2 separate regions of the Homo sapiens genome follow, and region 2 is linked to region 1. Evidence: fine-mapped expression QTL. Tissue or cell type: lung. Region 1 holds a variant in brackets; the other region holds the start of a gene. All regions are shown on one strand. Distances are from middle to middle.

Region 1 (8,000 bases):
ATTTCTGAAACAACTATTTGATTTACCTGCTTGTATACTCAGAAAAAGCAAGTCTAAAGTGATAGGAAGATGCTGCTATTATTCTCAAGAGGCTTTTCAGGTTCCTCTCACAGCACTCAAAACTCCAGTTCAGTAATGTGCTAATGTTTTTCACTCATGAGTATGCTAAAGTAATTTGATACTATGCTGTCAAAAAAAAAATTTTTTTTTTTCCAGATCAGCACAAAGTTTATTAGCAATTTCTGCTCAGAAGAGCCCCCTTCTGACCAGGACTGTTCCTCTGACATACCAGACAGGAAATAGCCACACGTACAGGCCCTCACTCTCATTTATATCTCAAGTCACATCAAAAGGACATCTTAGAGCAATGGCAGTTGCCCCCCTGGGGTCCCCTGGGAATAGCTAAGGTGTGTGGCTGTCCAGAGTCCTATGACAGACCTTCAAAGTTTTAAGTTCCAGGAACCTGGTTTTTGCCCAAGTCCACACCCAAGGAATAGAAACCTTCCTTTCAGGTAAATATATTGTACAAAAAAAGGGGGATGATATCATAATAGAGAAATAGCTAACACCCAGTGCTTCTCCTCCTCTATAAAAATACCAAACTTTATCCAATACTTGTCCTCAACTGACGAGTATTACATACTGTTCTCTTTTCCATGAAGCTACTGAGAAAATCATCTATTTCCATCTTTCCCTCCAAGAAGTCTTCTGCAATATTATCAGATTCTTCCTCAGCTTCATGTGCAGCTACTTTCAATCTTGCCTGAAGGGCACTTGCACTACAGCTCTGAAAAAGAAAATCAGGCACTACTTTAATTTATGATACTCACAAGAACTCCTCACAGGGAAAGGAAGTAAGGTAGTGGTATGGAGAGGCAATTTATTATATGCCCTATATAGCCTCTTTTTGAGAAAATCTGCTGTCTTATAATGCCCCACCCAGGTCCTTAGCTTTTGGATAGGGGTAGACACCTAACTCAAGAGAAACTAATCTATTGGCTGCAAACTATTAAATGAGAGAAACTGGGAAAATCATTGTTCTCTCCTAAGGATTTACGAATTAAATCACTGTGGTAGATATATGCTAAGGAGACGCTCCACTAATGACCTCACCTCCTGGTATTCCTGCCCTTGCATAATCCCACCATTGAGTGTGGGCTGAACCTGACGACTCATTTCAATAGAATAAGGCAAAAATGATGGGATTAAATTTCACTAAAGCAGTGAAAGACTGATAAACAGAAAACTGTAGACACTGCTATAAGAAATTGAAGACATAAATTACTGGAAGACATCCCATGTTTATGGGTTGAAAGATTTAATATTCTTAAGAAGACATTACTAATCAAAGCAACCTATAGACTCAATGCAATCCCTATCAAAATCTCAAGGGCATTTTTTGCAAAAATAGAAAAACCTATCCTAAAATTCATACGGAATCTCAAGAGACCCCAAATAGCCAAAACAATCTTAAAGATGATTAATATTTCCTCATGTCAAGTTACTAACAAAGTTACAGTAATCAAAACTGTGGTACTGGCATAAAAACATAAAGAACAATGGAACAGAATAGACAGCCCAGAAATAAACCCTCACACATATGGCCAAATGATTTTCAACCAGGGAGCCCAGTCCAGTTAATGGGGAAAGGAATCTTTTCAACAAATGGTGCTGGAAAAAACTGGATTATCGACAGGCAAAGGAAAAAAGTTGGACCCTTACCTTACTTAAATACAAAATTGATTCCAAATGGATCAAAGACCTAAATCTAGGCACTAAAATGATTTTTTAATAATAGCTATCCTGCTTGACGTGGTGGCTCATGCCTGTAATCCCAGCACTGTGGGAGCCTGAGGCAAGCAGATGGCTTGAGCCTGGGAGTTCATGACCAGGCTGGGCAACATAGCGAGACCCCGTCTCTACAAAAAATACAAAAATTAGCCAGGTGTGGTGGCATGCACCTGTAGCCTTGGCTACTTGGGAGGATGAATTGGGAGGATCGCTTGAGCCTGGGAGGTCAAGGCTGCAGTGAGCTGTAACTGCAGCACTGCACTCCAGCCTGGGTGACAGAGTAAGAAAAAAAAAATAATGGCCATGCTAATGCATGTGGGGTAGTATCTCTTTGTGACTCATAAATAAAAATGAACTGTAATGCACCATTTTCTCATTGCCCTTGCCAAAACTGGTTATCTATCTTCACAAATATGGCTCACATGGATGTTTTATTTGGCTTTTTAAAAAATTACAGTAAAGTTGAACATATTTTCCAAAGTTTCCAGTTATTTATTCATTAAATATTTATTGAGTACCTATTATGTGCCAACCACTGAACCAGATATTAGGTGTACAGTAGAAATGAAACAGAACAGATTCCTCCATCACGGAACCAATGGTCTAATGAAGTGGTTTCCATATGTAAGAGCGCAGAAGATTCATCATCCCCAGAAAATTTTGACTGAGAACATCTAGAAAGAAGCCTAGGAATCATTGTTTTGTGTGTGTGTGTGTGTGTGTCTTTTTTTTAAGTGTTTGAAGAGTCACTTCCAGCAATTCTTATATGAATGTTTAAGGATCAGAATAACTGTTAAAGCAGAATCTTTATTGGACATTTATATTTCTCCTTTTGTCAGTTTCCTGTTGTTTCCTTTTCCAATAGACCACTGGCATTAGTATTTGTTGTATAGGCTAAAAATATCTGTACCCTTTTTTTAACTTCAATTTTGATTTCATGATTTTTTAATATATCTGAGTTTTCAATCTGTAGAGGTAAATATGTCGAGTTTTTCCTTTATGCTCATATCTGTTTTATTATGCTAAGAAAGGCTTTTCCCACCATAATCTTAAAGAAAAAATCCTAGAAGCTAGTTGACGTTTTATGGTTTCCGCTGAAGCAGTTTATCTGTAATAAACTTTCTGTGTATTGTATGATACAATGATCTAACCTTTTTCTAAATGGATACTAAATAACCAATTTTATAATTTATTGAATCCTCAATTTTTTCCAACTGATTATTCACATACACAAGTCTATTTTTGAACTACATAGTCTGTTCCATAGAAATAATTTTCTCTTCCTATAAAACTACTATACTGTTTTAAATAATGAGGATTTACAGTGTATTCTGATACTGGGAAAGGGAGTTTTTTTCATTTTTTCTTTTTGTTCAAGCTCTTCCTGACTACCCATCTGAAAAATAAAGTTTCAGATGAACTTTAGAATAAACTGTTAAGATAAAAAAAATATTCTTGGCATTTTGATAAGAACTGTATTCAATTTCTAAGTTATTTTGGGGAGAATGAAATCTTTTTAATAATGGATCTTTCATTCAATGAATATTCTATGCTGCTCTAAATAGTCTTAGAAAATACAAAACTCAGCTCTTCTTTTATGGCATTCAATAAAGTTTCCTAACTTACTTCATTGGGTTTACTTCTAAGTACTTTACAATTTTGTTCCTATGGTAAATGAGTTGTTTTCTGTACTTCATTTTGCAGTAGTAATTGCTGGAGCAAACAGGAAAAAATTTCTCAGTTCTCTAGAATTTTTGATTGTTTATTTTTGGTAAACAACTGTTTCATTTCTTCTTTTTATGTTATACCACTTTTTTTTGGTCTTGCAGTACTCAAAACCTCCCAAACAACGTTAAACAGCAGTGATCATGAGGCATTACTCTCTTATTCCTAACATTAATGGGATCCTAGAAATGTGTAGTAATTGTGAGGTTTACTGCTGGTTTCTAGTATTCTTTTTCAAATAAGAAATTTCTATTTTTAGTTTACTAAGAGTTTGTATAAAGAATGATGTTGAGTACTATGAAAGCTTCTTCAACATTTACTAAGGTCCAGTATATATCTAACAGTACTTCAGTTGAGTCTCACAGATTTTCTGTGAAGGAGGACTGCTTAGGTTACACTCCTAACTAATGTTTCTACTTGTATGACCTCAAGAAATTTATTTAATCTCCCTGTGCCTCAGTTTCCCTATCTGTAAAATGTAAAATGGGAAAAAGTAACAATACCTATTTCATAGGATTTGGTGTAATAATGGCCCAATATACGTAAATAGCTTCATGCGGTGCAAGACATATTAATTGCTCAA[T/C]GTTAGCTATTATTTCTTTATTCTGACAAATGACCGTATTATCTGAAATTCATTATAAATTTATATTCTCCTTTACCATCTTTTTTGCTGTTGTTGGTTTATGTCTATTTTATGTTTTATTTCATTGACTTTACCCAAAGTTCCTAATTTTACAGGAAACAGAATATTAACTATGAGGTTGTTATTGGTATGATACAAAGATTATGTCCTCTGGTTCCTTTTCAAAGATTCCTTTTTTTTCAGAAATATAGGTTGAATTTTATAAAATTCTTTTGATTTTCACATAACTGGATTTCTAGCATAAAACTTATTTGTAGCAGATAATACTATATATTTTTCATATATTATTCTTTTTAATTTGCGAACTTTTCATTTAAGGTATTTGTAGATAAGCTTACAAGTGAGTCGAAAGTTTTTGTTGTTATTGCTAGGTTTCACTACAAGTGTTACAATGGTTTCATAACTTACCCAGAAAAGTTATGTGTCAGGGCCTGTCATAATTTTCTGTTTTAGAAACAAATACGCTCTTATATGAGCACAAATAATGTATGATGCCTCATCACTGAGAGCTGTTCATCCACGTTTAAAGGTATCATGTCTTATAAGGTCAGATACCTCATAAATGGTTTCTGATGATAATGAAAGTGAGATCAGGACTCATGCACATAAGATTAAAAAAAAAATCTATGGCAAAGGGAAAAAAATAAACAGTCTTACCTCACTAAGTTCATGCTGCCTTTGCATCTTCTTTTCGAAAGTGGACTTCATCTGTGTAAGTAATTCATACTAAAAGAGAAAATGAAAAGGTTGTTTTATTCTATTTTTAAATTATGTAAATTTCTTCAAAATTATCACTAACTCACCTTATCTAAAACAGTTTGTCTTTTGGCTTCCAAGCTGGGCTCCAAAAGGAGATTTTTTCCTGTAAGATAAATCTCTAGTTTACTTCTAGGTAAAGATGAGATTTTTTTCAGGAAATGTGCGCTCAGGAGAGGGAAAACATACTTGCTAGTTCCTCAATACTTTTTACTAAGTCATCTTTGTCGGTAATAATTTGTTTTAGTTGAGGCAAAGTCAGAAACTGTTCTAGTAATACCTCCTCTTGTTCATTCATATCTGTGAGTTGTGACACACTAGAAACACAAAAGAAAAAATGTCAATAAATATCAGACATCGAGTTTTTCTCCATGACAACTATTTACAATTTTTCAGCTTTAGTTAACTGATAGGGTTCTAAATAATTTTTACATATACACCTAAGGCTGCCAGTTTTAACCTTAAAATCAAATAAAACATCAACCACAATGGAACATAGAGCAGTCTGTAATATATTCTTGACAGAATCTGTAAAAGTAAATTTTGGTCCAATGGATATATCGATATATCTACTTTCTTTAAAAATCACAACCGTGGGGAAGTGTTCACAGTTATACAGTGACCTGAAATTAAAAATAAAGTCAACTTAACTCAGGTAAAGAACAATGTATGAAACTAAGGAGCTTATTCAGCTTAGGTTTCTTAAAATAGGACAGCAGTAATATAGTTAAGTATTTTTTTCTTGTTCTTAATTCTGTTTAACTTAATTGCTTGAGAATATCACTTATTTCTTAAATTTCCCTGATAGGAACCAGACTTACTGATATGTAAAATTTAAGCTATTTATTTCTTCCAAGCATAATGTTGAACACACTAGTACTATAGTAAATTCAGACAAGTACAAGTTCACAGACAAGGTAGCATGAGAAGAATTTCTTCCTAGTCATTTCATTGTATGTATTGATAAGAGGGAAACAGAGCTGAAAAGAGGCCAGAGTAGTTACTGTAACATTTTGGCTTTTTCCTCTAGTCAGCTTTAGACCAGGTCAGTGCATGATTCCAAGGATGTGTTGGCCAAAATGTAGCCAGTAAAATCTCCCAAGACTCTACAAGATAAACAGTCTCTGCTAGTGTATAATGTCAGTTACTGTAGGACCAGTAAGACACGGCACATAAGCAGTCACAACAACTCCGTTTTAACCTCTGTGACTATTTAGCTTACAGATGTGTGGCTGTCACAGTAAGAGTTATAGATATGTTTATGTGTGTTTATGTATATGTGTGTACAGATATTCATAAAATATTTAAAGAAAAGAAATAATGGAGGGCTAAACCAAAAACAAAAATGGGTATCTGTAGGGTGAAAGAACTAGGTGGAGCAGATATGGATGGAAGCAAAACTTTTCTGAACGTATCTTAGTTTTGACTATGGAGCCATATAAAAACGTTGGATAATTTAAAAATAAAGAAGAAAAGAAAAAGCAGTCTTTAAAATTCAGGGAAAATGGACTGCTTTGAAAATAAATAAACCTGTATATTCTAAGTTATATCAACACCCAGAGAAAAATTATTTGGAGAGATTAAAAAAACAACAGTATATTCTGGCATGTCATATCCTAAAGACAACAGAACTGTAAAAAACAAAAACAAAAATTTAACCTGCATTCAATAATCTTAGTAACAGTACTGGTATTGTTATTTTGGAAAAGAACAAGCACCCTTCAGAGAAATGGCTGACTCTAGGTCTGGGAGAAGAAATGTTCATGATGAGCCCACAGCATCTTCACTTTGCCAAAAACGATACAGAAGGCAACTTGAGTTTCTCACCCATCAGAGCAACTTTTGGAGACAGATAGTGCAGCAACTCATTATTGTGACAGGTGATAATATAAGGGGAAAAATTTAAGCATTTTTCTTGGTCCTGTATGAAGTATACTTCAGTATAACTAAATATGTAGTTGATTAAGTCAAGTTCTTCATAGAGTAATTCTGGTTAATAAATTCTGGTGGTAATGATAAAATCATTAAATCATATTTATGACCCTTGCTATATTAATGATGGTCAATGATTTCAGGTGCTTTAACCTGATATAATCTTAATGTCACTAAAAAAAGGGCAACCAGACCTCACTGCTGCCTCATAGGATGTAAAAAGAAGCATGCAGTAATTATGACATAAGTATTGGCAAAAGAATTGAACCTTGTCTACTTCTAGCCACCAGCAGCATAAACTATGGGAAACAGAGAAACATCTTCAATGGTACCACAAGGAGGCACTAAGGAAAAAACAGGATATGGAAAATTTTATAGGACAAATAACCAATTTAATAAACACACACTATGTCTAATATACACGCATGGATGTATGTACATGGACATGTATTTATTCCCATATTTGTGTACATGTATACGAACATATGTAAATACACATATGTATATGTCTGTGTGTGTGTGTGTGTGTGTGTGTGTGTGTGTGTGTGTGTATAAAAGAGAAAAGTTGGGGAGAAATGGTTCATTATTAAAAGGAACTTAAGAGATCCACTATCCAAATGCAATAGGTGGAACTCGTTTTGAATCCTGATTCAAACAAACTGCCCACAAAAATATTAATTATTAAGACACTGGAGAAATAAGGTAATATTAAAGAATTACCATTAATTGTGTTAGGTATGATGATGATGGTGACTGGGGTTATGGTTAAAAGGAAAGAAAATCCTTACCTGGTAGAAAAATTTACTGAAGAATTGATGGGTTAAAAAGGATGTATTATCTGGGATTTGCTTTAGAATAATGGTGACTCATACCTACAGCCCTCCAAGAAAGCTGGATAGAAGAGGCATGAAGCATGGTGAGCAAAAGGGTTTATAGCTGTTGTTGCCACATGATGGATACGTGGTGGCTCATTATACTAGTTTCTTCACCTTTTTTGCATTTTTGATGTTTTCATAACAATTATTTAAAAAAAATTTAAAGCAAAAAAGATAATCTTATTAAATGAGAACTCCTACCTTATGGGGTTATTGTGAGCATTACAATGCATATTAACCTTTAATGTATGCAGTATATTGTAAATATTCATTTTATT
Region 2 (8,132 bases), 34 kb after region 1:
CAATAAGCTGGCTAGAAGCTTATAGGCTAAGAGGCAAAGATTCAAGCACACTGATTCTATGCAGTAGAAAGAAGGAATGTAATTCGTCCTATGCCTACTATGTGCTAGATACTCTTCCAAATGTCTTACATATATTTTTTAGTTATCAAAAATCCTGCATGACAGGAATCACAATTGCTGATTTTACAGATAGGAATTGGAGGATCAGGGTTGTCTCACATAAAAATATCCAAAACATGAGACATTTCTTCCTCCCAGTCATTTGTTACTATTGCTGAGAAAACATTTTGAGCAGCTCCCCAGCAGACTTCCCCTCCAACTCCCACTAACCAAGAGTCCTGCTTCCACAGTAACTTGGGGGGAAGGGTGATGAGACCATCATCACTGGCATAAACAATCCTTATTCACCTCTAGTGGAGGCTGGGTTGAAAGATTCCAGCCTCCACAAAGTATGGGCCTTGCAGAGGGAAAAACCAACAGTGTCCATAAAGTCAGCTTCCTCAGGAAGTATAAGAAACAGAATTAGTTCTACTCCTGTCCATAAAGTCAGGAGTTTTGGTGATAAACTGAATACTGTGGTAAGTGATACTTAGAAGAGAGAACATATTACTTGAGCCCAGGAGGCATAATTTCTAGTTTCCATTTTCACAGCTGACTTAAACACTTTGGTTAAACACTTTTCTGTGAGTGTCATCTATGACAGTTATCTCATTTGCCGTGCATATTGTTGAGACTCAGATGAAAAAATTTACATAAAATTCACCTATTTTTTTTGTAGAAGACTGAGGTAGCTGAGGAGATAAGAATTTAAGGCAACTAAAAAGTTCACAATCATTAGAGAAAGGGACAAAAAGAGACTGCTGAAGTGGAATTTTCGGAATTATAAGGGGTTAAAAATTGTAAGAGTTGGAAGGGAGATGACAGAATGGGGTAGAGAAAGGTTACTCAGTAGAGCAGAAGAAAAGATACTTTCATGGCCAAAAAAAGATATTCACCTATTGAGCTTACATTTGGAGAAGAGACATAAAACGAAACATGAGGGAGATGGACAGCATGTAACAAGATATTGATATTCCTCATGTAACAAGTTTTTGTACTGTTCATAGGAAAAAACACACTGGAAATTCTTTCAACTTTTACACACCACACCTTTAGAATAACCAATCTGTCTGTTCGCACAAAAATCTTTTAAGTGTAAGTCGTACCACTAATTTAGGTAATCAGGCAACATATTGCCAGTATTGGGGCTCAGAAAACAATACCCCAAAATATTGCACTTTGGTAGGCTGATTACTTTGAATTAAAGGAGTCTGGAGGGCCTCAGAAGTAAAGCTCTCTCTGACCACCTCCTGCCCCTCTTTCTCCATTGAAGAAGTCATAGAAACCAGAATTCCTCCTCCCCTGGGCGGTATATTACAAACTACAACCCTTCTTCCCTACAAAAAATCTAGAAAGGTCACTTTCCCTTCCGCCCTGAAGACCCTCACTCCATATGAGCCCGGGCCGGTCCACTAGAGGAGTAGAAAGTTATACAGAGAAGCCAAGAAAAATCTGAACAAACAGGCCTTGGTGGGTTTCCCCTACCTCTGTCTATTACCATTACCATACTCTTTTTGTCCAATCACATTTCTACATGGCTGTCCATTCTTCATTGAACCTAATCATAAATACAGACAGTTTTCCTTCGGTCTCTGGGGCTTCATTTCTGAAGGCTCCCATGCAGTGTAAAACTTTGATTAAATAAATCTGTTATGCTTTTCGCTTGTTAACCTGTCTTTTGTTACAGGAGGGTCAGCTGTGCCCCTTATGACTGATGAGAAAAAATATCACACCTTTTCCATCTTTACATCAGATACCATACAGACAGATTATTTTTTACCTCCCAGCTTACAAATATATGTCATTATTTAAAAGGGTGGACTAACAAGAATAGGTGAGTGGCATTTTCCAGGATTGTGCCATTCTTTGAAAACTGGAAGCATATGACCTACTTAAGTGTCTCCGGAATTATTCGAGTATAATTTGTAAATGCGAAACATCTCAATAAAACTTCAAGTGTTTTTATAAAAGAACTTAAAACAATAAAATACTTAGTTATTTGTTCATAACACTACAAAATAAATTACATTATCTAATGTAATCATGTCCAATCATACGTTCATAATTTCTGGTTCAAAAAATAATACATAAAATGAATCCTTTCTGTATCCAACTCCGCGTATTTACTGATCCTCTTAAGCCAATTCCAGAACTCTTTACATTAACAATTGCTGCTATAGAATCTCACTTTATTTGGGAGGCCAAAATTATAAATTTCACATCAATTACTTCCCTTACTTACCAGCCTTAGCAGCAAGAGACTTTGTAGTATTTAAAAAATTAAACTCCAACCTCGAAGAAAAAAATTAGTCAGCATTGAAAATATTTAACATAATACTACATACTAAGGTTTAAAAGCAATTAATTCCAAAAGTGTGGTTCTAAAAAAGTGTTTCTGCAATAGCAGGACTGGTTTGGTATATAGTCTACCAAGGTAACAACTTCTAAGGGAACAAACATGTTAAAAACGAGTCCCCTTATTTTATAAGCATACCTTGTGAGAGTAGCTCTTAAAGGTCAGTACAGAACATGATTTGGAGTAAGAGTGACTTGTAAGAACTTTGCGAACTTAATTTTCCAGAATGAAAGCCACCAATAACAGCCTGCCATTCTTTTCTGTTAAACAGCATAAAATTTCACCTTTTGAAAGTTCTGAACAAACAGAACAATTGAGACAACGAACCAAGAAACACCTAAAGTTCAGTCAGCATCAGGCCTTATTTTAGCCAAACTGATTTTGCAGTAAATTTTTCTATTAACTAGACTATTTAATTAAAAATTATTCCATTTTAAATAAGAATTATTCGATATTATCTGAGGATACATATTTTTTAACTGTATGAAAATAATATTTTTAAAAGGGCTAGGAGCCCGGCGAGGTGGCTTATTCCTGTAATCCCAGCACTTTGGGAGGCCGAAGCGGGTGGATAATCTAAGGTCAGGAGTTCGAGACCAGCCTGACCAATGTGGTGAAACCCCGTCTCTACTAAAAATACAAAATATTAGCCGCGCATGGTGGCGCGCACCTGTAATCCCAGCTACTCGGAGGGGTGTGGGGAGCTGAGGGAGGATGATTGCTTGAATCCGGGAGACGGAGGTTGCAGTGAACCGAGATCGCGCCACTGCGCTCCAGCCTGGGCAACAGGAGAGCCGTACCCCCGGCAAAAAAAAAAAAAAAAAAAGGGGTTAGGGACTTAACAATGTTGTCATCTTTATTTAAAATAGTGTGAAACTGTTAAGTAAATATACTTGCAAAATGCATAAAATATAAAGAAGCAGTTCTAATTTTTGAAAACCATTAGAGACCATAGACATTTGCAATGTAAAAGGCTGCAGCAAACCAATTTACAGTAAAAGTTGAAATAATATGAATTGTAAAAATATTTCTAAACTGACCATGATAAAATGAAAAACTCACAGGAAGACAACAGAACAATCAAGATGAACATAAAGTAATTCTTGAGCGTGGGGACAAGACTATGAAAGAAGTGAGAAATGTACATGCACTGGTCGCTGTGAGATGGGGAGAGACTGCTCCAACAGGGTAAATCTTAGAGACTCAAGAAGACTGACTACGTGATAAGTGACTCTCAGACGAGAAGCATTCACTGATGAAAACTCTGGCTTCCCTTTCCTTTGATGTTGCAACAGTTCTATTTTCCATTCTTTGTGAAACCTGGAGATTACTCTTCACAATTGTATTTTAACAATTCTGCTGACGCGGCAATCAGGTGGGCAAAGGGAAAGATCAGTGGCGAAGCCTGGGCAGCAAGGGATACTGGAAATAGACTATGAGAGAGATTGAGAGATTACAGTCAGCAGCTATGTGTCAGGAGGGATGAGGAAATCCGAGTTAGAAGCGCTGAGCAGTGGTGCGGCAGGAGGCAGGGAGGGTCCGGAGGAAAACAGTAAAAGGGGGCAGGAGTGGCAGAGCAAGCGTGTGACCCACAACCAAGGGAGGTAAACCACATGAGGAGCTGGTGGGGAGCAGACTGAGGCGCTGTGAGGGTGGTTAGGACAAGCCCGCCCTCCCACCCTACTTTTTCCTCCGGTGGAGAGGCAGCGACCAGTCACCTGGAGTGTGAGTTCCGGAGGGACTCGATCAGGCGCTGCTTCTGCTGCTGGAGGCTGGTGAGGCCACCGGGGGACCCAGCCGCGGAGGAGGAGGCGCTCTTGGTCAGGGGAAAAAGCCAGCTCATCCTCCTCGGGTCCACGGGCCGGAGGCCCTGGAAGGCTCTGGCCTGCTTCTCCCAGTGGCTCGGCCCGGCGGTTCTCCAGCGACAGAGGAGCGGGGTGGGACGTCCGTGGCCCAAGCGCTGGGGACCGCGTCTTCTCTAAGCCTGTCCTGCCTGCGCTCCCCGAGTTCTGGGGGACATGCTACGAACGGCGGGCGGCTGGAGAGGGAAACTTGCGGCCCGGAACAGGAGGTCCCACCTTCACGGCCCAGACGCCCAAACCGGCCAGCCAGGGAGCCTGGCCGCCCAGCGCTCCACCACCCGCGCCGCCGTCACTTGCGTGCCCCGCCCCCGGGGGCGCTCTCCGCCCCCTCTGCGTGTCGCGTCATCATCTAGCGCCCCCGTCAGGACGTGCGAAAAGCGACGGCGCAGCACGGTGCGGCGCAGCTCCTGCTCGCCTTTCCCTTCGCTGGGCGAGAGGTGTCTATGGGGCACCCGCTGCCGCCGCCGCTACCGCCACCGCCACCGCCACCGCCGCCGAGTGCTGTCTCTATGGCGAGGAGGAGGAGGAGGAGCGCGAGCTCAGCGACACAAGTAGATCTTGCATCCGCTGCAGCCTTACGGGGGGAGGGGCGGGTTAGGGAAGTAGAAAGGGGGCGGGGACGATGAACCTGAGAGGGTGCGCGATGGCGCCAGCTGGAGTGCGGCTGGCGGAGGAAGGAGCCTGGCGGCGGGTTGGGGGCTGGGTAACTGGGGCTGGGGGTTTGTCAAGGGGTTGGCGCGTAGTGATGACGCAAAGGCTTTGTACCTGGGGCTTCGCAGTGGGACGGAAATTGGGAGTGGAGGGCGGTGGCCTAGATCCTCACCTCTTCGTATTGTTTCACGCGGCAGTGCTTGGGAGTCAGTGTAGCTCCAGTCAGTGTTATCAGCACCTTCGCACTGGCGCTTTGCCAGGGAAGAGAGTTATCTATGGCTTGAATACCTCGGTGCCGTCCTCTCGTTTCTCTGGGAAACTGCAGTACGGAGATGCTTTCTCCAGTAATGAGAAGGCCTTTGGTGTCTCTTCGGGGCTTCTGGGACTGCAGTAGAGAGAGAGGTGGAGGAAAACAATGTTAGACTACAGGGTCTTTCCAAGTCTTTGTGTTTTTGTGCTTATGTGTGTGTGTGTGCCTATCGGGGTGGGAGAGTTATAAAGGAGGGGTGTCCTGGATCTCCTTTAGTTTCTCTACTTGGAGAATTGGAAGTTACATTTGTGACTCTTCAGAGTTTAGAAGACAGTCATAAGACCCTCTTTTTACTCTTGTTTTTTTTTTTTCCAATTTGTATGAAAAATGCAGAAGGATTTGAAATTTCCCTGCCCAAGAATCAACAGGAACTCTGTTTATAGACCAGAAATGTGACATCTATCTTTGGTAACCATGCAATATGCTCTAAGTTTTAGACGTTCTATTGTGTTCTTTTTCCGTTCTGCAACTGCGAACATTCAGATAATTTTCATGGCCGTTACTTTTTTCTCAGAGCATTTACAAACATTTTTGACCCCTCTAGTCTAGTTAGAATAAACGCCGGTAAAGTAGATCTTGTTATCAAGTCGGATTTTGGTTGTTTTATTAATGAGGAATAAAAATAAACACCATCTTTGCCATGGTAACATCTGATCTTGTCACATGTAAATAAGTAATTTTTCATTTTTTGTCTGGAAATGGATGGCTTTATAAAGTTTTATGCAGAGTAGTTGAACTCAGATAAATAATTAGTGGAAAGTTATAAAATATGATTAGTATGTATGTGTAAAAAAGCTATTTTAAAATAACTGAAATTAGGACCAGGAAATCTGTACTGTAGTCCTTTTTTTCCTATAGACTAGCTGTGTGACCTTAAGTTACTTTCTAAACTTTGATTTTTTTTTTTTATGAGTCAAGAACTTTGAATAAATAACTTCTTAGGTTCCTGCTGGATCAATTATTCTGTGATTCAGATTTGATATATCTGGTCTTCATATTGTTTTTTTATTTTGACAGGTACATAAATAAAGGATAAAATATTTTATGAAACAAATCTTCAATCAAGTATAACATTTTGATGCTTGGCATCTAGACTCCCTTGTGCCCTCACTATGCCAGCGGCAACTGTAGATCATAGCCAAAGAATTTGTGAAGTTTGGGCTTGCAACTTGGATGAAGAGATGAAGAAAATTCGTCAAGTTATCCGAAAATATAATTACGTTGCTATGGTATGCCCACAAGCAGATCTTTAAAACGCTTCATATAAAGGAGGAAAAGGAAATTTTAAAGTCTTGAATTCAACCCTTTTGGTTGATATTTTTAGGGATTAATTTCACCATGAAAAGTAAAATTTGTCACTGCCCTCCAGCCAAAATCCATCAGGAATACACCTGTGATTTGACAGGTTGGGTTTATCCCTCATTGCAGTGAGGGAAAACGCACTGGAATTCATGGGAACCATGGGCCGTTTGAATAAGAGTTAGGAAGGATTTGGGCTCGTGTCAGGTGGTCTTAGGGGAAGGTAAGGGAAGCAGAGCTTTACTGTGGATTGGATGTGTTCGGGAAGCTGGGGTAATTCTGTGATTGGGTATCTTACTAAGTCTTAAATGAGAGACTAGAATGAGGTTAAAGCTGCAGAGAAGGAACAGTCATTCATTTAGCCAGGATGGAGATACTTGGTCATTTTGTGGTTTGACATTTTTATTTTTTTGTCCTTGTTCAGACATGATTACAGAGTGGCCTTATTTGAGGTTGAACTTTTGTGAAATTGTGTTCAACAGGAGAACATTAGGGCGTGGCTATGAGTGCCAGGTCTGCTCCTAGCAACACCAAAGCCTAGCTGGTAGTACCACATGAGCTCCCAGAAGCTAGGGTGCTCTTTCTCAAACAAAAAAATCAGATGTGCCAGTGAAACGTTGTTGGTCTGCAATTTGTTTTCATAATTAACACTGGAGTTCTGTGAATATACTGTGTTACTAAGCAACTCTGCTTTTGCACGTGCTGTTTGGTCTGCCTAGATTGTCTATCCAGTTAATGATTTTTCTTCTTTACCATTATACTGTCTATATCTGTTAGCTACCCTACTGTTTTCTACATCCACTGGATTATTATTAGCTCCATAAACCAAGTGTTTTAATCCTTTCTCTCCCAACACCTAGCATAACACATATAGTATTCAATAAAGTGGCTGTTGAATTGCACTGAATTTAGAGAAATATTGATTTCTTTACTATTTCATAGTGACTTGATAGGTAGTTTTTATTCTTAGCTAGCCCTAGTTTGAATTCTAATACTAAACCGATGTATCTTTGTCTCAGTATTTTTAATAAAAATAAACAAATGCATTACTTTGGGGAGGAGCAAGTTGATTGGTTAAAATATGACTGTTTCTTTGTAGATGACATACTATTTGATAAAGGTGTACTTACCCATGATTAGAACTAAAATTGTTTTCTTAACCAATGGAAATTCATAGTGATCATTGATTTCTCAGATGATAAAGAGTGGCAACATAGAGAAGTGATAACATCCTACAAGAGTGAGTAGGTGGCATGCAATTCTTGACAGCATGCTTTCTGTGGACTATAGAGAGAATATTGTTTAAGCCAGAGAAATTAGGAAGCTAATGATGTTTTTCTTAGGGTTTTGGTGTTGAGAAAAACCTTGTGTCAGAGAAGCAATTGGAAAGTACAGGGCGTTTTCCCCTCTTTTGAACCAGTTCTTCAAGAAACTTGGTTTTAGCATTGGAATACTGTGAGCATCATTTCATGTATCCTTTGGGAGACAGGAATTTATGATTTTCCCCCCTTTCTTGGTTATAGAGTAAGTATTTGGTTAAATTTATCACATGTAT

The links. PIP is the estimated chance that this variant, and not a neighbour inherited with it, causes the effect.
Region 2: it holds the start of VPS37A, and the variant in region 1 is fine-mapped to the expression of VPS37A in lung (TOPMed, PIP above 0.99).

Annotation. Positions count from the first base shown.
Region 1 is chr8:17,277,260-17,285,259 of GRCh38, reverse strand. VPS37A (VPS37A subunit of ESCRT-I) reads right to left here. Exons shown (of 12, transcript NM_152415.3): 7 at 5,105-5,232; 8 at 4,963-5,021; 9 at 4,817-4,885; 10 at 644-787. Among named protein-coding and RNA genes, the nearest start is that of VPS37A, 34 kb to the right of the region's middle. The variant T/C (reference allele first, on the strand shown) is at 4,100.
Region 2 is chr8:17,243,411-17,251,542 of GRCh38, reverse strand. It overlaps VPS37A (VPS37A subunit of ESCRT-I), which reads right to left and starts at 4,585. Exons shown (of 12, transcript NM_152415.3): 1 at 4,174-4,585. The coding sequence starts at 4,298. It overlaps CNOT7 (CCR4-NOT transcription complex subunit 7), which reads left to right and starts at 4,686. Exons shown (of 7, transcript NM_013354.7): 1 at 4,686-4,868; 2 at 6,296-6,507. The coding sequence starts at 6,391. RefSeq lists an enhancer at 4,089-4,937.